Homo sapiens: one gene and its partners. The protein of the gene in region 5 purifies or fractionates together with the protein of the main gene of each other region. This does not show direct contact. Each region holds a gene or a part of one and is shown on either strand. Other genes may lie near its edges.

Region 1 (3,500 bases), on a different chromosome or scaffold from region 5:
CTTAAATGAAGTGCCCACTAAGAAGTTCCACTTAACACATGAATTTCTGCCATATTAATTTCATTGTCTCTATCTGAACCACCCTTTATTCTACATATGATAGGCAGCACTGAAATATCCTAACCCCCTAAGCTCCAGGTGCCCTGTGGGAGAGCAACTGGACTATAGCAGGGCTGGGCTCTGTCTTCCTGGTCATAGGCTCACTCTTTCCCCCAAATCTTCCTCTGGAGCTTTGCAGCCAAGGTGCTAAAAGGAATAGGTAGGAGACCTCTTCTATCTAATCCTTAAAAGCATAATGTTGAACATTCATTCAACAGCTGATGCCCTATAACCCCTGCCTGGATTTCTTCCTATTAGGCTATAAGAAGTAGCAAGATCTTTACATAATTCAGAGTGGTTTCATTGCCTTCCTACCCTCTCTAATGGCCCCTCCATTTATTTGACTAAAGCATCACACAGTGGCACTAGCATTATACCAAGAGTATGAGAAATACAGTGCTTTATGGCTCTAACATTACTGCCTTCAGTATCAAGGCTGCCTGGAGAAAGGATGGCAGCCTCAGGGCTTCCTTATGTCCTCCACCACAAGAGCTCCTTGATGAAGGTCATCTTTTTCCCCTATCCTGTTCTTCCCCTCCCCGCTCCTAATGGTACGTGGGTACCCAGGCTGGTTCTTGGGCTAGGTAGTGGGGACCAAGTTCATTACCTCCCTATCAGTTCTAGCATAGTAAACTACGGTACCAGTGTTAGTGGGAAGAGCTGGGTTTTCCTAGTATACCCACTGCATCCTACTCCTACCTGGTCAACCCGCTGCTTCCAGGTATGGGACCTGCTAAGTGTGGAATTACCTGATAAGGGAGAGGGAAATACAAGGAGGGCCTCTGGTGTTCCTGGCCTCAGCCAGCTGCCCACAAGCCATAAACCAATAAAACAAGAATACTGAGTCAGTTTTTTATCTGGGTTCTCTTCATTCCCACTGCACTTGGTGCTGCTTTGGCTGACTGGGAACACCCCATAACTACAGAGTCTGACAGGAAGACTGGAGACTGTCCACTTCTAGCTCGGAACTTACTGTGTAAATAAACTTTCAGAACTGCTACCATGAAGTGAAAATGCCACATTTTGCTTTATAATTTCTACCCATGTTGGGAAAAACTGGCTTTTTCCCAGCCCTTTCCAGGGCATAAAACTCAACCCCTTCGATAGCAAGTCCCATCAGCCTATTATTTTTTTAAAGAAAACTTGCACTTGTTTTTCTTTTTACAGTTACTTCCTTCCTGCCCCAAAATTATAAACTCTAAGTGTAAAAAAAAGTCTTAACAACAGCTTCTTGCTTGTAAAAATATGTATTATACATCTGTATTTTTAAATTCTGCTCCTGAAAAATGACTGTCCCATTCTCCACTCACTGCATTTGGGGCCTTTCCCATTGGTCTGCATGTCTTTTATCATTGCAGGCCAGTGGACAGAGGGAGAAGGGAGAACAGGGGTCGCCAACACTTGTGTTGCTTTCTGACTGATCCTGAACAAGAAAGAGTAACACTGAGGCGCTCGCTCCCATGCACAACTCTCCAAAACACTTATCCTCCTGCAAGAGTGGGCTTTCCAGGGTCTTTACTGGGAAGCAGTTAAGCCCCCTCCTCACCCCTTCCTTTTTTCTTTCTTTACTCCTTTGGCTTCAAAGGATTTTGGAAAAGAAACAATATGCTTTACACTCATTTTCAATTTCTAAATTTGCAGGGGATACTGAAAAATACGGCAGGTGGCCTAAGGCTGCTGTAAAGTTGAGGGGAGAGGAAATCTTAAGATTACAAGATAAAAAACGAATCCCCTAAACAAAAAGAACAATAGAACTGGTCTTCCATTTTGCCACCTTTCCTGTTCATGACAGCTACTAACCTGGAGACAGTAACATTTCATTAACCAAAGAAAGTGGGTCACCTGACCTCTGAAGAGCTGAGTACTCAGGCCACTCCAATCACCCTACAAGATGCCAAGGAGGTCCCAGGAAGTCCAGCTCCTTAAACTGACGCTAGTCAATAAACCTGGGCAAGTGAGGCAAGAGAAATGAGGAAGAATCCATCTGTGAGGTGATAGGCAAGGATGAAAGACAAAGAAGGAAAAGAGTATCAAAGGCAGAAAGGAGATCATTTAGTTGGGTCTGAAAGGAAAAGTCTTTGCTATCCGACATGTACTGCTAGTACCTGTAAGCATTTTAGGTCCCAGAATGGAAAAAAAAATCAGCTATTGGTAATATAATAATGTCCTTTCCCTGGAGTCAGTTTTTTTAAAAAGTTAACTCTTAGTTTTTACTTGTTTAATTCTAAAAGAGAAGGGAGCTGAGGCCATTCCCTGTAGGAGTAAAGATAAAAGGATAGGAAAAGATTCAAAGCTCTAATAGAGTCACAGCTTTCCCAGGTATAAAACCTAAAATTAAGAAGTACAATAAGCAGAGGTGGAAAATGATCTAGTTCCTGATAGCTACCCACAGAGCAAGTGATTTATAAATTTGAAATCCAAACTACTTTCTTAATATCACTTTGGTCTCCATTTTTCCCAGGACAGGAAATATGTCCCCCCCTAACTTTCTTGCTTCAAAAATTAAAATCCAGCATCCCAAGATCATTCTACAAGTAATTTTGCACAGACATCTCCTCACCCCAGTGCCTGTCTGGAGCTCACCCAAGGTCACCAAACAACTTGGTTGTGAACCAACTGCCTTAACCTTCTGGGGGAGGGGGATTAGCTAGACTAGGAGACCAGAAGTGAATGGGAAAGGGTGAGGACTTCACAATGTTGGCCTGTCAGAGCTTGATTAGAAGCCAAGACAGTGGCAGCAAAGGAAGACTTGGCCCAGGAAAAACCTGTGGGTTGTGCTAATTTCTGTCCAGAAAATAGGGTGGACAGAAGCTTGTGGGGTACATGGAGGAATTGGGACCTGGTTATGTTGTTATTCTCGGACTGTGAATTTTGGTGATGTAAAACAGAATATTCTGTAAACCTAATGTCTGTATAAATAATGAGCGTTAACACAGTAAAATATTCAATAAGAAGTCAAACTACTAGGGTTACTTTTTTTTCCTCAATCAGAGTCTCATTTTATCCATTTGGAGTAGAGTGGCTAAAACAATACTGAGGCTTCTGGAGGCTTTCGGTAAGCAAGGCATCTGGTTGGACAGTGGGTGAGCACCAGGCTTTAAATCTGCATACATGAGCCTTAAGGAAATGGACTAGAGGCTGAGCCAAACCAAAGCAGAATGGCCTTAGAGCAACAGCAGGTTCCTAGGTGGTTTTTATATTGTATTTGAAAACAGCCCTGGGCAGGGATATCATAATTTCAAGGCCAAACTAAACATCATCTTCCCTACAATCTGCATCCCCCAAAGGAATTGCAAGATGAGGGGGAACAGACTGTTTCTGCATAATATACATAGTTTCATTTACGAACATTGGAATACAGACTTTCTATACACACATTACCTATATAATAAAAATGTACA
Region 2 (3,500 bases), on a different chromosome or scaffold from region 5:
CCTCCCTTTATCCCACAATAAAGACCCAGTCCGCAGTGGGAGCCCACTTGCCTCTGGAGCATGCAGATCTGGATATATTCTTCAGGGTCTCCATTAAAGTCTGCTTTGCTGAGGAATATTTATTACCATAAGACCATAAACTGTAAACTTGGCCAGAGGAAGGAAATGTGAATTTTATCTGTTGCTTTTAGGAGCCTCTTTTGCTTTATTCTGACCCTTAATCCCACTGATTAGAAAAGCCCACAAAGCTTTCACAAGGCCTTAAAAGTAAGAGCATGAGGATGGGGAAGATTATTGAAATCCTTTAAAGTTATCTTTATAAAGAATGTTGTATTAGTTGCTTTTCTATCAGCTAGATGCTGTATTCTTTCACTTTTTTAGTGTCTTCTGAAATCTGGGCAGTAAAATCAGACTACATACATTGATTCCAGTATGGGAATATCTCTGTTGTCTGCTTCTTTTATAAGCTGTTGAATTGCTTCCTATACTAGGGCATTTTAGGCACTCTTTGCTGAGTGGTAGAGCAGGAAGGCTTGCTTGATTGACACAGCCCTCTAAATTTATATGCAAATTGCTCTGTGCTCTTGAGATCTTGGAAAGAAGGCAAAACAGGCCAGGAGTCATTTTTTTTCACAAGTATGAGCACTTCAGAAACCTTTAAAAGTCAGGAGCACACTGGACAGGGTGGTGAAGGTTCCTTATCCTGGGTTGACAGATTTCTCAGCCTTCACTCACAGCAGGTGCTGGAATTAAAGGACTTTAAGATTCAGAGGAGGTCATTATCACATTTCCACTAGGGAGTTTCCAGGACCACAGCTATAAAAACCTTCTCTTGAATGGGTGTGAAGAGCCACGATCTTATCCGTTTGAATTGCCTCCAGTTCATTTCCACTTTAATTTATATTCATAAACTCAAGGATAGTTGACATTGTGTGGGGGGCAAGAGAGTACCTATCAATATTTCATTCACATCTGGGCTGCCATGGGGGAAGAAATGGAAAGTGAAACTGTGATCAGTGCACATTCACTGGGCAGAAGGATTGGCTCATAATTCCAAAATGATGTATTTCTCTCTTTATTCTATCACTCATCTTCATATATGAACAGAGCAATGCTATTCTTCATATAGGATCTTTGTTTTGTGGTCAAGTGCATTGTGTTGATCCAAAGTGTTGGCCCAATATAATGGTGGGGTGGGGGGGTGGGGACCAAGAAGAATGAGGTTCAGCATAGACCCTTAAGAAGCTAAGTGTTGGCTTGGGGTGGTGAGATGCATTCACCTGAATCATTGGCATCATGTTACCAGGTAGTACACAGAGAGCTCTTTCCAAGAGACAGAGATATCTGTGAACTGGGACAATCTGAAAAGGCTTCAGGGAAGAGGAGGCTTAAGTAGATTTAGGGAAGTCCAAGGATAAGAGAACAAGGGTATAATTTGGGGTGGTATGCAGTATTCATCTGTAGAATGGGAATCGCCATCCTATCCCTGCTGTTGTTTTGCAGATGGTGTTATATAATATGTATTAAGTGAGTAGCATAATTCTGGTAACATAGCAAATACTCAAAATAGGAGCAATTACAACTATAGCATGGCAACTGAGGGCATTATTATTGAAACCAGACTGGGTCTGGAACCTGGTCTTCCTGTACTCACTATGAAACTTTGGTCTAACTACTTATTTTTGTCCCCAGACAAATGGGGACAAAAATACTTTCTATAATATGGAATTATGAGGAGACTGCTTGCTTGGCACTAATAAAAAAAACCTCGGTAACTATTAGCTGCTACTATGATTGCAATTATTATTATGACACAAAAGGAGAATTAAACTATGTATGTGAGGGAGTCAGTGAAACCCTTGGCTTCCCTTCAGAACTTTACAGAGGGTCTACCTTGCCCACTATTGTCAGTGTCATACCAACTCAGCTTGCCCCGAGCTTGGGCGATGAGGACAATAGGTCCATAGTGCCTGCCCGTAGTACCCTGCGGATCAGATAGGAGTGTGATCATTGTGTTGCAGGTGTTTCAGCCCTTTGGGAAAGACTATGGGTCATCAGAGGTTGATGCTGAAGCAACAGGAGGAAGCATCAGATAGGAGTCTGGCTGGACCAAGTAAATTGACCCGTCTGCTATGCCATCTTGCAGGGTGATCTACAAAGGACAAACATCCAGCTTGACTTTGGGGATGGGATTGCTGTGTCCTACGCAAACTTCAGCCCCATCGAGGACGGCATCAAGCACGTGTATAAGAGTGCGGGGATCTTCCAGGTGACAGCCTATGCAGAGAACAACCTTGGCTCAGACACAGCTGTCCTCTTCCTGCATGTGGTTTGTAAGTAGGAGGCACCATCCCCGTTTTCCCTTTGTTCCCAGTTGGCAACTTGCTCTGTTCAGACTTCCTAAAATTCAGAGCTGAGCCCAGGTTCAGTGTGACTACTACAATTACCCAAACCAAATGGTGGAGATATGTACTCATCTGTGTTTCTGAGTATTATGGTACTGAAATAGATTGATTATTTTGAAGTTCGGATAACATATTACCACCTGGGCCGTCCTTTTCAGCACCACTCTGCTCTGATATAAATGTGTGCGTGCACACACATTCAGGTAAAAGTCTCCTCTCTTCCTTTTGGAGAATCCTCAAAATGAAAAAGATAGAAACAAGCCTTCTGGTTGATAGTCTCAGGCTCATTCTCAATCTATTATGAATGAAGACTGCACAAATCAAAGTCAACTGTTATTTGTGTTGTAAGAGCCAGAGAAGGATTAAAGAAACATGTTTAGATATTTTTAATTTAGAACTAAACACACACACAAAATTAATTTTTACATACAAGGTTACTGCAAGTTCATTCTGTTTTGACAATTCTAAGAACTCTCCAAAAATATTTTGTTGTGCTAGAATCTATTTCATTGCTATTGGCTGTTGCTTGGCACAAACCAAAAGAACAGTTGGTGTTCCAAAATATTTCATTTGTGCTGGATGCATTTTGTGTATTTTCTATTCTAGAATTTGATGCATGTAAACTGAAACTTTAATATTGTGATTTTAGGATGTCGGGTCGAGGAAATGTTGTCTTGGGGCTGGGATTGGTTTCCCACATGTGTATCAGTGATATTCGTGGGTCTAAGGACTTCCATGGTTCTTACTTACATACCCCACAAGAGTTTCCAGGTAATATGCTACATATAGTGAAAATCATAAGTTCTGAAAGAGTCTAAGTGAAAACAAGGAGCACCCTCCTATTAACAACTCAGTGATGGCATCAACTCTATTGTATAAACAACCTACACCTTAAGAGGTCCCTGGCAAACAGTAAGCTAGCTAGTCTCCTGGCTCTCCAGTCACAATGCCGGTAAAGGGACCAAAAGTGGTAAGGGATGTGTGTGAGAGGAGACCTGGATTATGTAGCTCAGTCATGTCCCTAAAAATGCCAGGCTACATGGCCATGAGATAAATGATTTCATTTCTCAATCTCCTGAACTCCAATTTTAAAAT
Region 3 (3,500 bases), on a different chromosome or scaffold from region 5:
CAGGGATGCCTGATATAAAAGGAGAACACCAATCTGAGAATGGACTTGTGTGTGTGCACGTGAGAGATGGACGTGAGCTTTGTTTCTGTGTGTCCATGGGTGAGCGTGTTCCTGCAGGCACATGTGCAGGTGCATGGCGTCATCTGTGCAGATGCTTATGCCTCTGTGTGTGCGCATGTGCATACCTAGGTGTGTGCATGTGTGCAAGAGGTATGTGAGAATGTGCATATGTGTGAGGGTGTGGGGATCCATATGTATGTGCGCTTGTGTGTTCATGCACACACATGTGCATGTGTGACTTGAGGTGCGTCTCTGTGCACATGTATGCATTTGTGTGTGCACGCCTGTGTAAGTGTGTATGCAGGTCTGAACAGGTGCATATGCGTGTGCATGTGGCATGTGCATGTGTATTGTGAGGGAGTAAGTGGGTGGGCATGGGAACTCAAGTGTGGGCCTGAGCCCTGTGACTCCCATCCGCTCTCCCCACAGCTACATCGAGAACCAGCAGCATCTGCAGCATCTGGAGCTCCGTGATCTGAGGGGCCTGGGGGAGCTGAGAAACCTGTGAGGGAAACGGGGACTGTGGGTGTGGAGCTCAGCATGGGCCTGGGGGAGACCAGAAGGTCAGGGAGGGCTCAAGCATCCGAGGGCCTGGGAGGACCTGAGAGGCTGAGCACTGAGGGACTGGGAGAAGTCAGGAAGCTCAGGGCTTTGAGGGGTCTAGAGTAGTTGAGGAAACAATGAGGGGCCTGAGGAGGGGTAGGGGTTCAGCACAGGGGACTGGGAGGCTGGGATGGGCAGGGAGGGCCAGGGGCCCAGAGTAGCTGAGACCTGGGGACTGATCCTCCTGCACCCCTCCCCAGCACCATCGTGAAGAGTGGTCTCCGTTTCGTGGCGCCAGATGCCTTCCATTTCACTCCTCGGCTCAGTCGCCTGTGAGTGTGGCCAGTGCTGGGCAGTGGGAGTTGGGGAGGACACCCAGACTTGGGCTGCTAATGGGCTTGGCTGTCCCCGGGGAATGATTGCGAGGAGGGCCCAAGCCTGGTCAGGGAAGTCACCTCACCATTCTCCTGGGGCTTCCTCCCATCTCCCTCAGGGATGGCATGCTCTCGCCCCTGACAGCTAGAGGTCCTCCTTGCCATCTCACTTCCATGGTCCATGCTGCAAGGACACTTCTCATAGGTGCCTGCCCTATCTTTCTTCCCAGGGCTCAGATACACACCAGTGCAAAGGGAGCAAGCGGCAGGAGCAGGACTCCTGGGTTCTGGCTGGGACTCCATTTCCCAGGGACTCATTGACTTGGCCCCTAGGACATCCTGGGAGCTGGGGTGTTAGGTCTGCCACTTGTCACCCTCCTCATTCCTGGGAGTCATAACTATCCCTCCTGTAGAGCAGTGGACCCCAACTTTTTTGGCACCAGAGACTGGTTTCATGGAAGACAATTTTACCACGGATGGTGCGGGAGGAGAGGATGATTTCAGGACGAAACTGTTCCACCTCAGATTATGAGGCATTAGTTAGATTCTCAAAAGGAGCACACAACCTAGATCCCTCACGTGCGCAGTAGTTCACAGAATCTAATGCTGCCATTGATATGACAGGAGGCGGAGCTCAGGCGGTAATGCTCACTCACCGCTGCTCACCTCCTGCTGTGTGGCCCGGTTCCTAAGAGACCACATATTTGCCCTGTTTATAGCCCCTCTTCCTTGCTGTGCTTCTCTTTTTCTTTAATTTATTTTTTAAGAGTCAGGGTCTCCCTCTGTTGCTCAGGCTGGAGAATAGTGGCACTATTACCCATCTGTGGCCTGGGAATTGGGGACCCCTGCTGTAGGACAGAGAGGGTCATGGGATGGGCAGGAGAGACTATCAGAGTCCCTGGCAGCCCCTCCCTGGCCTTCTGAGGGCAGGAGTTCAGCTCCCCTGTCCCCCAATATGAGCAGGCAGAGAGATGGGAAGGATGGTGGGGCTGACACTCATGGAGTTATGCAGGGTCCTCTAAACTCTGCTGTGTCCAGCAATTTAACAAAGCAAAATAAAGTGATGTCATATCACCGTCTATGCACCGGGGCTTCAGTTAAAAACGTGCTCAATGACACTTCACGATACTTATGTCAATGAATCTTCACAATCAACCTGGTGAGAGAGAGAGTGTTCTTGTCCCCATTTCATAGATGAGAATTCTGAGAATCAGAGAGGTTGAGTTTCTGGACTGAGGTCACACAGCTGTAAGTGGCAGGATAGAACTTACACCTGCTCTAGCTGGCTCTAGAGTGGGTTGTGTCTTTGGTCCCTATGTGGTGGTACTTCTCCCACCCAGCCACCACAAATTCTAGGTTGGCTAGGAAAGAAGAGGGGTCAGGATAGGCCCCTCAGAGGCAGAGGGTCCCAGCAGCGGCAGCCTGGCACAGGGCACAGGGCACTGGGGCTCCTACATCATTTTCCTGTGTGGCCTGGAGCCGGGCCCCTGCTGGGCTCACTTTTTCCATCCATACAACGAGGGGGCTGGGGGTGTGGGGGTGTGGGTCCTTTCCTGCCTGACCTTTTAGTCCCTGAGGAGGGCCCGGAAGGAGGAGGAGGAGGGGAGCTGAGGAAGTGCGTGGAGTTCCTTGTGGTCAGGTAGGGGCAAGGGAGTGGCAGCCTCAACCCTCCCCCTCTTCCTCTGGCCCCGTCCTGGGCTCTGTAGGGAGGGGAGCACAGATGGACCCCTTCCCCCAGCTGTGGCCTCAGCACTTTGCCAGCTGGGGCCAAAGCAGTGGGGGAGGGAGGAGCGGCTGTTCCCTCAGATCCCCCTCCCTGGGGTCTGGAGAGGGGGTTAAGTGGGGTTAACCCTTGTTGTCCCAGGGAAAGGAGTGGGACTCAGAAAGTCCCCCCACCCCCCACCCCACCATCTACACACACTGCCTTCCAGGGCTGGTTCTGGTTGCCTAGGCCGGGGCGGGGGAGCCAGATGTCAACTTCTTTCTTGGCTCCTCCCCTCCCTCATTCTGGTCAGAGTGAGGTCGGGTCACTCAAGGGGTCTGTCTTGCTGTGTCTCCACGCCCGCAGGAATCTCTCCTTCAACGCTCTGGAGTCTCTCTCCTGGAAAACTGTGCAGGGCCTCTCCTTACAGGAACTGTGAGTGGGGGCGCTTCCAGGGGCAAGAGCACCAAGTGTGTGTGTGCCTGTGTGCACTTGGGTCTGTTGGATGACATTGGGTCACTGTGTCTGTGTGACACTGCTGGGGGGTCTCTTTGGGGACTATGTGCATGCCAGTGAAACCCCCATCAAAGCAGGGGCTGCAGGACTACCCGTTAAGGGGGCTACTGCCCTGAGGAGCTGGCCTGGATGACTGTGTGTGTGCTGGGCCTGGCTGAGCAGATTACAGGCCCACTGTGTGTCCAAGGCACATCTGCCCACATTCCCAGGGCACCCTGCACAGGGGTGAGTGGGGCAGCAGGGGTCCATGTGTACCTGGTGGGCACTTAAAGCCTCTGGGTCACTCTGGGGGGCTGTGCCCTTCC
Region 4 (3,500 bases), on a different chromosome or scaffold from region 5:
AGGCTCTGAAGTTCCCTGAAGCCTCGGTCACGGAGATAAGGAAGTGTATACATCAGCTGTGAAGGAAGGGCATGATACAAGGTGCTCGGGGTCTGGCAGTGTGTGAATCTGAAGACCTTTGGTGTCAGAGTGTTATGTGGAAATGTTTTCAGTGTCTGCTCTGAACTCCCTCAAACCATGTCTTTTTAAATGTGAGCTGCTAACAAGGCTAGTGGCATGTTAGTACTGGTCTGATGAGTCCAAGGTCACAGGGTCAGTGTTCAGATGGGTCACTTAGAATCGGAACCTCAGAAAGAGAAAGGGCTTTAGAAATGATCTGCTTCAGCCTCTTCTTTGCAAAAATCAAGGGCAGTGAAGAAAGTTGCCGAAGGCCGACTCATTAACAGCATTGTGGGAACTAGAAGCTCCTTCTCCTAGCATCCAAATGAATGCTGGGGGCCTTTGCTTTAGGGTGCCTCCCCTCCGTTCTGTGTTCTCAAACAGACCGCCTAATTCTGGCTCATCATTTTATTAGGTTGGTGCGAAAGTAACTGTGGTTTTTGCCATTACTTTTGCACCAACCTAATAGAACCACCATAAATGGGGAGACAAGTTTAACATGGCTAAGTCTGTGCAAACTCATCTCTGTGAGAGACCAAGTAATTGAAAAGTGCATGAGCTACTGATCTGAAAGCAATCATCTTATCTTCATATAGGAAGAAATATATTTTCTGTTTAGCTTACTGTGTGTGAGTGTGTGTGTGTGTGTGTGTGTTAAATTTGAAGTGTTCCTCTTCTTTAGGCAATTCATACACAAAAAATTTGAGCTTCAGAGAAAAGCCTTCATGAGTTGGCAGCAATGAGGTATGCTAACCTTGGGCCTGCTGGGCCATCTTTGCAGATTGGCATTAGAAGAGGGGCAGAGCAGACAGAGTGAAATGAAACCTGTTGCCCCTGGAGTCTTTGCCACAGTCGGGGGTGCTTATGTAAGTGGAGAAACCCGCAGCCCTTTCGATGAGGTCTGTGTTAGCTGCCCTGAAAGACCTGTGGCCAGAGAGTACTTATTATTCCCCGACTTCTTTCTTCCCCCTGACTTCTCAATGCCTCAAGATTGATGACTAGTCTCAGTGGCTGAGCCAGTGAGCAAACTTCAGGATTATTGGCTCCCATCCAAAATTCATCCAGCTACCATTTTATGTGTTGTTCGTGTTCTGCTCTGAGACCTTTCCAGGAAAAGCACCCTTCTGAGACATATTTTTGGTTGCATGAAGATTTGCTCCCATGGGACGTGAAGGGCCCTTTACAGACATCTGCTTATTTAGGTTTACAGCCTCACTCTGAAGAAGGTGGGGAGGTTTTGGCAGCCTCTGAGGGGCTGTGAGGTTTATTAGTTTGCCTGGGCCCCTTGGTAAAGCAGAGCATAATTTAGGGGTAGGATCCTATCTAATGTCTCATTTAGGGCTCTGTCTACTCCAACCTTGGTGCCCAAATTTGACCTCGAGAGCCAAGGCAATTCTAGGAGAGGTCTAGAGATTTGAATTCATGTTCACAGATTAAACTTCATGCAGTGGGAAGGAGGTGGGCTGGTGCTTCATCCTCTGTCTTCCCCACCCCTATCCTCTTCTCCTGTTCAGCTCCTGAGCAGTCTGATATATATTGTGAAGAGATAAATGATTTGGTTGCCTTTGGTAATATGGCATCTTCTTGTACAAAATAAAACTGTTAATAATCACACACCATTTAGAGTTCCTTTTTTTATGTCAAATAAGGACAAATTGCTACTTAGCATCCCATCCTTTCCTGTAATCTTCATATCCCAAGAATTGTCTACACACACACACATAGACACACACCATAATGTTGTATGTGTGTACCGTGTTTTCATCAATACATAAATCTGTGTATAAAACTCTGCCATGTGTAATTTGTTCAACTTAATTATCTTGAGTTGTAAAATTTTCTGAATAATTGAGAATGTGCTTCCCTAAACCACTATTTTAATTTTGTTTTTATCATTCTGGATGTCCCTTGGCCAGGATCTGGTTGGGCTGTCTTCTTTGAGAGAAGTACTTGAGCATTAGTGCATTGACCCTGTTAGCCGACCTGGTCACTCAGAGACCCACTGTGTCTATCTTCTGATTCTTTGATATCTTCTCAACATAAACGAACAATGTAAACAAAATTGAAAGGTATCGGAATTTTGGTTTCAACCTCTGCAATATAGTGCAATTTAAAAAGAAAGGATCTTCTCAACGCTAATCTTTGTAACAAGAGTTGTTTCTACTTCATGTACCCCAGAGTCCCTTGCTGTGAGGTGGCAGAGGGGCCTATGCCTGAATTGTCTGACTCTTGCTCACTGTGTGGCAAGTGACCTCTCTTTTCTGGGCTTGGCTTATTCCTCTGTGTGATGCATGTGTAGGGGTGGAGGGTGCTGGGCAAGAGAGCTTGACATCATAGCCCCTAGATTCCCTGGTAAGGTGTGACAAAAAAACACACAACTATGGTGAAACAAAACAAAACAAAACAAGTGTCTTTCTCCAAAGAACAAAACAAAACCCCAAACCAGAACACTCTTTTTAGTTTACTCCCAATTTTACTTCAAAACCCTGCTGCTACCACCCAAACTCAAAGAATGTTATAGATGATATTGCTCCTTGGTTATTTCTTGTGTGCGTCTGGTGCTATGGCTTGAATGTTTGTATTCTGCCAAAATTCATGTGTTGAAACTCAGTCACCAGGGTAGTGGTGTTGAGAGGTGGGAGTTGATTAGGACATAAAGGCAAAATGGGATTGGTGCCCTTATAAAAGAGACTCCAGAGAGCTTGTTTGTCCTTCCTGCCATGTGAGGACACACATAGAAGGTGCCATTTATGAGGAATGGGCCCTCACCAGATATGAAACCTCCCAGAACCTTGATCTTAGACTTCTCAGCCTCTAAAACTGTGAGCAATACATTTCTGTTGTTATAAATTACCCAGTCTAAGATATTTTATTTTAGCAGCCCACATGGACTAAGGTACATGGGTTTGGCCTTTCTCTTTGCAACTCTTCAGCCTCTTTCTGTTTCTGGTGGTGTTTCTTATCCCCTTCTCCTCTGTTCCCAAATCACAGACATATATATACAAACAATCATTTGGCTGTAAACCCCCTTTAATGGATTGTAAAGAAATCTTGACTTGTGTACTTTTTTCTGGTGGACGACCTGTGGGCAGACCATCATTGTTTCAACTGAACCTGGCTTGGTAAGGTTAACACAGTGGGAAAGGCGACAAAGTATAGGAACGTGGTATAACTGAAAGGAGCGCTGGTTAGGGATCTAGGATTTTGGATACCCACTCTCTGACAGTATCAGGGTCTGGGATTTTGGTTGAGCCACTTGACCTCACCAGCCTGACTGATTTCATCTTGAACCTGGAGGCTGTGACACTCATGCATGCTACTCCTTGAAAGACTCTGTGGTTCTGAATCAGTCAGCCATGAGCACTAGTGTTTCCTTTTCTGTTCAAGAATTCACCATTGCC
Region 5 (4,023 bases):
TGGGAACGAAGAAATGGAGGGAACAGGAAAGGGGTAAGCATGGGGGTGGGTGGCATGCTTTTGGGGTTGGGAGGCATATTATTTGGACTTGGCAAGGTTTCTAGGGCAAGATGAATTTGGTCCTAGCACATGGATGGGTACACAGATATGAGTCCATTTCACCACTTTTCTATTTATTCCCTTCTACAAAACTTTCTTGAACCCTACTGTATACCAGGAATTCAGAGAAGAAACCATAATCCCTGCCTGCAGAGCTCATAAGCCCATGGAGACACTCACAGTCTGGTGAAGTCTATATTGTTGAAGATGCATCTGTTTGTTTGTTGATGGGTGTCAGTGTGTGTGTGCACTCATGAATGTGTGTGTTTGTGTGACTGTATACATGTGAGGGCTTATGCAGACACGACTGTATACATGCATGTGTGAATGTGTACATATGCGCGTTTGAATGTCCGGATCACATATGTGCCCGTGTGCATGCCTGGAGAGGTGCATGTGTGGGACAGTCAGGTCGGCAGGAGTGCATGAGAACGGTGTGGGCACACGTAAGTGCACGATCACACATACAAGTGAGCTTGAGAGTGTGTATTCCTGTGCACTGTGTGCACACCTGTGACCCCTTCAAACCCCTCATTTGAGAATCAAATGATGTCGGAATGGACTCCACCTTGAATGTCGATGGCCGAGGTAAGGGCGCCTGCGCCCCTCCCCTCCCCCTAGGCCTCTGCCCAGGGATCTCCTGCACTGGGAAGGGGAGGGGTGGGGATGGGGTGGAGGTGGGGTGATGGACTGAGATGAAGGGCAGGGAGGGCAAGCGGGCATTCTTACTGATAGGGGGCAGTTAGGGAGCAAGGCTCCAGGGAGAAGGTGAAGCCAGAGGCGGAGGAAGATGGGTAAGAGAGTGAACCCTGTGGCGGGCCGCAGCCGGAGAGGAACAGGAACCGCAGTGGGGACGCCCTGGTCCCCGGGCCCACAGCATCCGGGACGGACGCGCAGTAGCGCGGGCCGGGAACTGGGTACCAGGGCGGGATGGGTGAGAGGCTCTAAGGGACAAGGCAGGGAGAAGCGCAGCGGGGTGCGGGGAACCGCACGCCCTCCCTTTGCCTCTGCTTCCCACCCCGAGGCGGCAGGGCGGGCGGGCGCGGTTCCGGGGGTGGGCGGGCTGGGCGGGGCGGAGGCGGGGCCGCAGCACTGGCTTCACCCAGCCTCTCCCGCCCGCAGCCAGAGCGAGCCGAGCCGCGGCCAGCTCCGGCGGGCAGGGGGGGCGCTGGAGCGCAGCGCAGCGCAGCCCCATCAGTCCGCAAAGCGGACCGAGCTGGAAGTCGAGCGCTGCCGCGGGAGGCGGGCGATGGGGGCAGGTGCCACCGGCCGCGCCATGGACGGGCCGCGCCTGCTGCTGTTGCTGCTTCTGGGGGTGAGTGTTAGCCGGAGGGGGCCCGCTCCCTTTCCCGGGATCAGAACTCCGAGAAGAGCCGGGCGCCGCCACCAAGGAAACAGAACAGAGCATTGGGGTCCCAGATACTGAGGGTGGGTGGTGGGAAAGGACCTCTGATGCCGGGACCACGAAGGAGGGTCTAGGGTTCCCGGAGCGCAGAGGCGACTCTCCAGGGTGGAGATGAGGGCAAGACCGGAGCACGGATGCCGGTCCTCAGGTACCGCAGGGGGCGGTGGGGGAGCTGGGAGGGGTCTTTCAAGAGGGGGCATGGGGCTCTCCGATGCCCAGGTTCTTCGGAAGAGGACACTCGAATGCCGGGATCCCGAAGGGACTTTCCCCTCAGCATCTCGGTCTCTGGAGAGTCGTGGGACAGAACCAAGGCGAGAGAAGGAGGGGGAACTGGACGGGGACTAGAGATGAGAGGGGCGAGCTGGGCTGGGGCGGGGAGCCCGGGACGACGGGATGGAACAATGGAGGAGGTCGGAGGGACTGGAGGCAGAGGGGACCCGGCAAGGACAATGGGGACCGGCCAGACAATGGGGGGGAGGGGCGTCGGAGGGAGAGGTTGGGGAGCGGGAGAGAGGTTGAGAAGTGGGTTAGGGAGGGCAGAAGAGGGGCGACGGCGAGGGCGGCAGAGAGATGGAAGCAGAAGGAAAGGAGACAGAGCGGGGCGCGGACCCTGAAGTGGTCGGGGTCCCGCCTGCCCGCTGAGGGACAGTGAGACGAGAAGAGAGAGCAGAGGCTTGGACATTTCCAGCGCCTGTCCCCGCGCTCCTGCTCGCGGCCTCTCCCAGTCCCGGAATTGGGGCTGCGGATCTAAGGCTGGGAGGGGAGTGCCCACTTCGCCGGGGCGAACCCGCTCCCGGGGTTCCCCCACGGCCGGCGGGCTCCTCCGACGCGCGTGTTCTCACGGCTTGAAGCAGCGCAGCGGATCGCGAGGGACGGAGCGGGTGTGCCCCTACCCGGGCTGGCGGTGGCTACGTCTCGGGGTGCAGAGCGCCGGGGCGCACTAGGCGGGGACCCTTCCTGGCCGCGCGCAGCTCTGGCTACGCAGGCGGGAGGCGGCAGGCAGGGGGCGCTGCGGGGCGAGGCAAGTGCAGTCCGCCGCTGCCTGCCTGCGAGTCTGGGGCTGCGCGCCGCTCCCCACCTAGCTGCGCGACCCGAGCGCCGCGCCCACCGCGCTCCGTGGGCTCCCGCGCCTCGAAGGGTCGGGATCCGGTCTGAGCCTCTCCTGGCTCTCGGTGCAAGCCGCTGGGCACCTAACGAGACGGGGGCGCCCGGACGCCTCGGATTCTGTAGCGCGGTATCCCGGGCCACCGACTCGGCAAAGGTCGGCGGGTCCTCCGGGTGGTCCGACGAGATTGTCAGATGTGGCCTGCTTTATGGCCATGAACCGAATGCCCTGGAAGGTCTGGCAACGGAGGAGGCGTCTTCACTCTCCCCGCCAGCATCTTTCATCAGAGCACTGCGCCCCAAATTCCGGCTTTACAGATACGGAGACTGAGGCTCTGAGAGTTTAAACGACTTGGCCAAGATCTCACAGCAAGTTGGGCCAGAGTCGTGGCTAGACTCCCCGACCTGATTCCCAGCTCGGTACTCCCCCACCTTTTCAGGGGGCAGCCGCTGTCCCAGCTCGGGGTCACGGCTGCGTTTCCCAGCAGGGCGGGGGGGGTTGACACTGTCCCCAGAGTCCGTCGGCGGTAGAGCCTGCGGGTGAGGTGGGCAGAGATTCTGTCCGGGTGCGGGCCCCAGCCCGAAAGCTCAGCCCCAGTTCCCTGGAGCTGTCAGGACCTGTGGCTGCGTCCGGGGATTTGGGAGCGACCGCGGGCACGTCTGCTGACTAACGCCGCTGGTTAGAGACGCTGCTCAGACGCGGGTGGGCGAGCGTAGACCAGGAGAGCGGGGAGGAGGGACCGGATCCCAGAGGGGCAACGACTTGGGCTCCGGGTCTGGGCAAGAGCGAGGGTCCCCGCGCGAAGACCCAAGGAAGGAGGGGAGCTGGGCGTGGAGGACCTGGGCGCTTGGGAAGGTGTACCCCGACAGGAACCTGCCGTCTGCAGCCCCTGCGGCTCCCGCCTCCGCCTCGGCGCGCGGCTGCTCGGTCTGGGATGGCTGTGCGCGGTCCGAGTTTCTTCCTGGGCCGCGGTGAGAGAGAGAGGGCTGAAACCAGAGCGCGTCCCGGCGGGTCGGCTGGCGGGCCGCGCCGGTAATGGAGGCACTTTGTCATTCAGACGTCTGTAACCAGAGCCGCCGGGCTGGCTAATGCGCCTAATAGGGATGGAACGAGGGCAGCAAATGGGCGTGCGTGAGCGGCCGGGCTGAGCTGGGTGGATGGTGGATGGGGAGGCAGCTCCGCGGGGGACGGGCCCCTACCGCACTGTTCCAGCCCAGTCTGGCTCAAGCGCCTCGCTTCTTCCCTGGGGGACCGCGTGGGGAGGCGGGAATAATCGCATGTGCTGAGTTCCTACTAAGTGCCTTGCACTTCCCTGGTAGTTTCTCTTGAATTATTTAATCCTTATAAGGTCCTAGCAAGGTGAATTTAGTTATTCCCACTTCGCAGTTGAGGAAACAGAACCTTCTAGACTTTC
Region 6 (2,346 bases), on a different chromosome or scaffold from region 5:
TCACTCTCTGCCATTGTTTAGCAGTCTGACCTTAGACAGCTCACTTCACCACAACTGCAGGCCTCCGTTCCCTTATATGTATAAATGAGGAGGTTGTCTAGGGTCCTTTCCAGCTGCAAACCTCTGTGTTTTGGGGAGTTCTGTTAGCAACATTCTTGGACTTGCTCTCTACGAGAAAAGCTAGAAGTCGATTATTAAAATGGAGTCCACAGGAAGCCTGCAGGGCTTTAAGACAGCCTTCTAAAGAGTTTAGAAACACTCACCAGCCTGCAGATGACTTACTCCCACTACTTATTACAAAGTATCATGGCAAGTAAGAAAGAAATGGTCAGCCACTGGGAGAGCAGGCTGAGGTTGCAAGGAAGTGGCAGGTGCTATCGTTGGGATCTTGGGGGAGCATTGTAGAAAGGTCAGCTTTGGAACCAGGCACTGAAAAACGGGTGAAATTTCAACAGGAGAGGCAGTGCACATGGGTTGTGATTTGAGCAGCAGTGAGTAGTGAATGGGGTTGGAGCAAGAGGCCTGTGAGCCCAGTCATCACATGGAAAAGGGAGGTGAGGGCCAGAGTGCAGAGAACCCCTCTCACTTTCCTGTGGGTCTCTCCTCTTCTTTTTTTTTTTTTTTTTTTTTGAATTGGAGTCTTGCTCTGTCGCCCAGGCTGGAGTGCAGTGGCGTGATGTTGGCTCACTGTAAGCTCCGCCTCCCGGGTTCACACCATTCTCCTGCCTCAGCCTCCCGAGTAGCTGGGACTACAGGCTGCCACCGTGCCCTGCTAATTTTTGTATTTTTTTTTAGACGGGGTTTCACCTTGTTAGCCAGGATGGTCTCGATCTCCTGACCTCGTGATCCACCCACCTCGGCCTCCCAAAGTGCTGGGATTACAGGCATAAGCCACCGTACCCGGCCTTTCTCCTCTTCTTTAAACTGCATTTAGGTTGTCCTCATCTATAAGATGAAGGAATAAGATTAGATGGCCTCTTTATATGGCTTATCTACTTCTAATAAACTTTGGTTCCATATTCCAGCCACCACCCATAAAGACTCTTACTTTTTCCTCCTCAATCCATCAGCATCAGCCAGCATTCTCCCTCTCAGTTCATCCTGGTCATTACCTCACTAATCTGTACCTTGACTCTTATTCTACCTGGGACCTCCCCTCACTAACCATACTTGATTTATTTCCTTAAGAGCGGATATCCTGTGTATTCTTAGCTTACAGTGGCTGAGCTTTTGGGAGGTTTAACAAATTGTTTTTCAATAGACTCTCAGTCCTAAATGATTTTATTGCAGCTGTATTATTCTTTTTGAGGGGAGTAGAGAATGTAATCCTAGTTGTATGCCATATTTTTTGTATTGTTCAAGTTGCATTTTGTTGGGCCTGTAATATTGAAGAAAATGTCACTTGTATGCAGAATAGGAGGGAGATTCCTTATGCTGTAGAGGAACCATTTTCCTAGGATAGTACAATTCCTTAGAGTCATCTCTAAGGGTGAGCAGCAAAGCTAGAATCCCTCTCTTGGCTTTGACCTTGAAGGAGTCAGTTTTCCCAAAGACTAGTTCCCATGGAAAGAAGATGGTCTCCTTATCACAGCAGCAAGAGGAGGCAGTATGAGCAGAGTGCCTCACTGTTGTTGACCTCTAGGGACAAGTGAGCCGGCAGTATTTCAGACAAGCTGGGAAAGAGGCTGTCTGTGAGTCCTGGGAGCGAGTGAGCACTGGCAGGCTCAGACATAGGTGCTGGTTAGCAGGACTGCTTTTCTGTTTCTTGTGTCGGCTTTGTTTATTTCCTCTCTATTTTCCCCCTGGACTTAGTAAAGTCTTTCCGAAAATACCAAAGGTGAACCAGGGGAAGAGTTTTTATTTTCCATGTTTGGACAGAACTTTAAAGAGGAAATGATGTACCCCCCTGGGAGCCAGTGAGGTGGCAGCGATGGTGATTAAGGAGTGAATATCTCAAGGAGGTGGACGAATTCGGGGATCACTAGCTCAGCTGCCCCTCTCCACCTGGAGCATCTCCTTCCAGTGCTACCCTCAGAACATCTGGGCTTTGCTCTAGTGAGGGAGAGACTAGCAATGAAGGTGTCTTGAGATCAGCACTGTAATTCCACCAGGACGCCACCGGAGTCCGGTGTTAAGCTTCTACTATGGCAACAGAATGAGAGCGTGGATGGGTTGAAATGCCATTTCAACAAGGAAATAGTAGAATTAGAAGAAGCATAAGCACTAAAAGGAACATTTTGTAGCAGAAATGTTAAAAATCTAAAGGAGGCAAGTGAATCAACAATGACTCTTCTATTCTGGGCAAGTCCAGCCCATTTATGTAAGGTGGTTATTCTGCATCTCTGT
Region 7 (3,500 bases), on a different chromosome or scaffold from region 5:
AGAACTGAAGGGCCACGACCTGGAGTTTTGTCTGTACGGAAGAGAAGAACACCTAACAACAAATGGGTGAGGTGGCCTTTTCTCCCTTGTCACGATGGATGAGGTGTTCTTGTTCAGAGTGAAAGCTGCTTCTCTCCACACTGAGATCCAAGCCCTACTTTAGAGCACTATTTTTGGCGGGGTTGGGGAGGGGCAGGATATGAAGGCCTCCTTCAAGGGTCAACTACAGGAGGTGAGCCATGAGTGCTTGGTGTCAGAGGACTCAACCCCACCAACACCACGAGGCAGAGCAGGAGAACAAGCTCGGCCAGATCCTGCACCCCTGCCTCCCGCCCAACCACCCCCAGGAAGGGAGGAGAGGCGAGGGACCCACAGGCAGAATGACAGAAGCGTCCCATCCGCCATGAACGTCCATCGCTCGTCTGGCACAGTTTAGGCACAGCCAGGGAGAGCTCTGTCTGATAGGACTTTCTTTGGTGATGGAAGTGTTCTGTAATTTGCTGTGCCCAATATGATAGTCACTAGCCACACATAGCTGTGGACACTAGTGTAACCGAGGAACTGAAATTTTCGTTTTAATCAATTTTAAGTAGCCACCATATTGGACAGTGCTGCTCTAGACGGGCCTCATTACCTCGCTCCCCTGATAACTTCCCCTCTCCCATTTTGTACCACTTGTTAATGAGCTTTTTTGGGGTCAGATTTCTTTGGCACAGTCTCTTAGGTAGAAAGAACAGGCATGTTTCTGACAGCAGGGGACAGAGATGCTTAGTTTGCTTAAGGCCTGAAACTACACAAAATATCCCCCAAAACATCCCTGTGGACATTCCCCCCAGGCCTGAAACATGACGTAAGGATGGGAAGCTTTTCGGCAGCTTTTCAAATCTTGTTTCCAAGAAATAGGCAGGTACCCAGGAATACATCCTTATCTTCTGTTACCAAATCTTCTTTGCCTGGTAGGTACCGGAAAATTCCAGGGGACAAATGCCAGGGTGGGGTAAATCCAGTTCGAGAAGTAAAAGACTTGAAAAAGAAATGCACAAGCAACTTTTTGAGTCCGGAAAAACAGGTATGTTAAAATAGGTCTAGTTTTCAGGTACAAATGGGATTTTGTGTTCTGCTAAGAAAAATCAAAGTTAAAGCATCAAGAGTTTTGTTACTGATAAAAAGTGGTCAAACTACTTCTCTCAGGCTTCCCTTATACAGGAAGCTGTTAGCATGAAGGATGGGTCATGTAACCCAGTGATAAGCTCACCCTACTGAAAGCTCTTTTCTTATTGAGGGTTGGGGGATGATATTCTGTAAAGTTGTAAAATTCTTAAAATCATACAGTTGTGGAAATTTCTGAGGCTGAGAGTCATTTAGGAAAACAAAAAGGTTGTCTGTGGGCTGGGTACAGTGGCTCACACCTGTAATCCCAGCACTTTGGAAGTCCAAGGCAGGCAGATCACTGAGGTCAGGAGTTCAAGACCAGGCTGTCCAACATGGTGAAACCCTGTCTCTGCTAAAAATACAAAAATTAAAATTACAAAAATTAGCTGGGTGTGGTGGTTTACGCCTGTAGTCCCAGTTACTCGGGAGGCTGAGGTAGGAGAATCATGTGAACCTGGGAGGTGGAGGTTGCAGTGAGCCGAGATCGTGCTGCTACACTCCAACCTGGGCAACAGAGCAAGACTCCGTACCAAAAAAAAAAGGTTGTCTGTGAAGGGCCATGACCTGGAATTGTGCATGTGTGGAAGAGAAGAGCACTGGGCAATAGGTAGGGTGGATCTCTGACCAAGTCATGTTAAGTATGTTCAAAGTGAAAAATTGAGCTATGGTAATGGGCTGGTTTTGATTTAAATGAAGCAAGTTACCTGTCGGGCATGGTGGCTTACTCCTGTATAGTCCCAGCACTTTGGGAGGCTGAGGTGGGGAGATCAGTTGAGGCTATGAATTGGAGAGCAGCCTGGGCAACATGGAGAAACTCCATCTTTACAAAAAAAATACAAAAATTAGCCGGATGTGGTGGTGTGTGCCTGTAGTCCCAGCTACTCAGGAGGCTGAAGGGAGAGAATCACCTGAGCCTGGGAGGTCAAGGCTGCAGTGAGCCATGATCATATCACTGCACTCCAGCCTGGGTGACAGAGTGAGATCCTGTCTCAATTTAAAAAAAAAAAAAAAAAAAAAAGGTTATGAGGCTGCATCCAAATCTGTAGCACTGAACTACCTGTGGAACTGGAGATGTGTAAAGAGGAAACCTCTTGATAATGAAACACTAGACCAGCAGCATGACTTCAGATGCTCAACAGCAGGCCCGTTTCCCAATTCGTAATAGGAGAGGTCAAGCTGGATCACCTGCAGTCCCTCCTCTCTGCTGTTCTAAGGGATGAGGGACTGACAAGGGGTGGGATTAAGGAGATGATGGGAGAGGAGTGTGTGAGTGTGTGTATTGGTAAGGGGGCGAGTTCCTCCTTCTGTGCACCCTTGTCCTGGGCTCCTGGTGACTCTCCTCAGAGTGTTCGTGTGTGTGATTGCACAGGACTCCCACCCACAGGGACACAGCTTGTCCTAGAATCCAGCTCTGCCTCCTCTGGGATACATTGAAAACACACACTCCCTATTTCCCACCCAGAAGCAGGTAGGTCACATGCAAACAGTGATATGATAAGGCTTATTTATAATAATATATAAAAAATTAAGTAAACAAATAAATCTTGGTGTCATATAATGGCCTGCCTGGTTCTTCTGACACAGCTTCTTCCCAGATAATGGCCCTGTTCTAGAGTCATTCAGCCTACTGTTACAGTAGTCTCCCTTTCCTACTCCACCCTTAAGCCCCAAGACTTGTGAACAGTGGTAGTGTGAAGCAATCATACTTGATCTAGGCAGTTGCCCAGGCTTCCAGTGTAACTTTGACATTTAAACCACAGAATTTGAAGGTTCAAGGCAGTTGGAGCTAAGATGACTCTCTGCCAGCTATAATATTCTCCTGGTAACACTGAGATGGTTCATCTTGGGGGGTTGGAAAAGAGCCATCATTAAGCGCATCAGGACTGCAGATCATTCACAAAGAGATGAGGGGAATGAGTGGCTGCCTTGACCTCAGTCCTAGGATATGCATGCCTAAAACTTTTGTGTTTGTGTTTTAATTTCTCAAGAATTCCAAGTCAAATTCTGTTCCAATTATCCTGGCCATCGTGGGATTGATGCTGGTCACAGTCGTAGCAGGAGTGCTCATTGTGAAGAAATATGTCTGTGGGGGAAGGTAAGGAACACAGAAGTCAATCCAAGGTACTGAGTTCAAGCCAGAAGGCTGATCTAGGGCATATGGCTGAGTCTACTCTTGGCAAAAACTAGGTACTTGCAGTACTGTTCCTGAAAAATCAGGCCCAAATCTTCTCATGTCGTACATTTTTCATATGTCAACCATGGACTGTGCTTTCTGTGTCTGTGATGCGTTCCTGAGTGTATAAAACTGAGAAAGTCCACAGTCCTGTAAGAAGTGCACCCCTGCTGTG

The links.
Region 1: the proteins of NGFR (region 5) and BACE1 purify together in Homo sapiens (affinity purification with western blotting; one study listed by BioGRID). This does not show direct contact.
Region 2: the proteins of NGFR (region 5) and SORCS3 purify together in Homo sapiens (affinity purification with western blotting; one study listed by BioGRID). This does not show direct contact.
Region 3: the proteins of NGFR (region 5) and NTRK1 purify together in Homo sapiens (affinity purification with western blotting; 2 studies listed by BioGRID). This does not show direct contact.
Region 4: the proteins of NGFR (region 5) and NTRK2 purify together in Homo sapiens (affinity purification with western blotting; one study listed by BioGRID). This does not show direct contact.
Region 6: the proteins of NGFR (region 5) and NTF3 purify together in Homo sapiens (affinity purification with western blotting, with the first as the bait; one study listed by BioGRID). This does not show direct contact.
Region 7: the proteins of NGFR (region 5) and SORT1 purify together in Homo sapiens (affinity purification with western blotting, with the first as the bait; 2 studies listed by BioGRID). This does not show direct contact.

Annotation. Positions count from the first base shown.
Region 1 is NC_000011.10:117,285,257-117,288,756, reverse strand, and holds the end of BACE1 (beta-secretase 1 isoform A preproprotein), read left to right. Parts: 3' UTR 1-3,059; downstream 3,060-3,500. UniProt on the Homo sapiens protein: Responsible for the proteolytic processing of the amyloid precursor protein (APP).
Region 2 is NC_000010.11:105,214,790-105,218,289, forward strand, and holds part of SORCS3 (VPS10 domain-containing receptor SorCS3 precursor), read left to right. Parts: intron 1-2,146; coding exon 2,147-2,333; intron 2,334-3,500. UniProt on the Homo sapiens protein: Plays an important role in modulating synaptic transmission and plasticity in the hippocampus, probably by affecting the trafficking and localization ofAMPA-type glutamate receptors in the postsynaptic density.
Region 3 is NC_000001.11:156,863,865-156,867,364, forward strand, and holds part of NTRK1 (high affinity nerve growth factor receptor isoform 2 precursor), read left to right. Parts: intron 1-489; coding exon 490-564; intron 565-863; coding exon 864-935; intron 936-3,045; coding exon 3,046-3,114; intron 3,115-3,500. UniProt on the Homo sapiens protein: Receptor tyrosine kinase involved in the development and the maturation of the central and peripheral nervous systems through regulation of proliferation, differentiation and survival of sympathetic and nervous neurons.
Region 4 is NC_000009.12:84,676,229-84,679,728, forward strand, and holds part of NTRK2 (BDNF/NT-3 growth factors receptor isoform a precursor), read left to right. Parts: intron 1-3,500. UniProt on the Homo sapiens protein: Receptor tyrosine kinase involved in the development and the maturation of the central and the peripheral nervous systems through regulation of neuron survival, proliferation, migration, differentiation, and synapse formation and plasticity.
Region 5 is NC_000017.11:49,494,070-49,498,092, forward strand, and holds the start of NGFR (tumor necrosis factor receptor superfamily member 16 precursor), read left to right. Parts: upstream 1-1,223; 5' UTR 1,224-1,348; coding exon 1,349-1,414; intron 1,415-4,023. UniProt on the Homo sapiens protein: Low affinity receptor which can bind to NGF, BDNF, NTF3, and NTF4. Forms a heterodimeric receptor with SORCS2 that binds the precursor forms of NGF, BDNF and NTF3 with high affinity, and has much lower affinity for mature NGF and BDNF.
Region 6 is NC_000012.12:5,491,108-5,493,453, forward strand, and holds part of NTF3 (neurotrophin-3 isoform 1 preproprotein), read left to right. Parts: intron 1-2,346. UniProt on the Homo sapiens protein: Seems to promote the survival of visceral and proprioceptive sensory neurons.
Region 7 is NC_000001.11:109,314,419-109,317,918, reverse strand, and holds part of SORT1 (sortilin isoform 1 preproprotein), read left to right. Parts: coding exon 1-66; intron 67-960; coding exon 961-1,069; intron 1,070-3,140; coding exon 3,141-3,247; intron 3,248-3,500.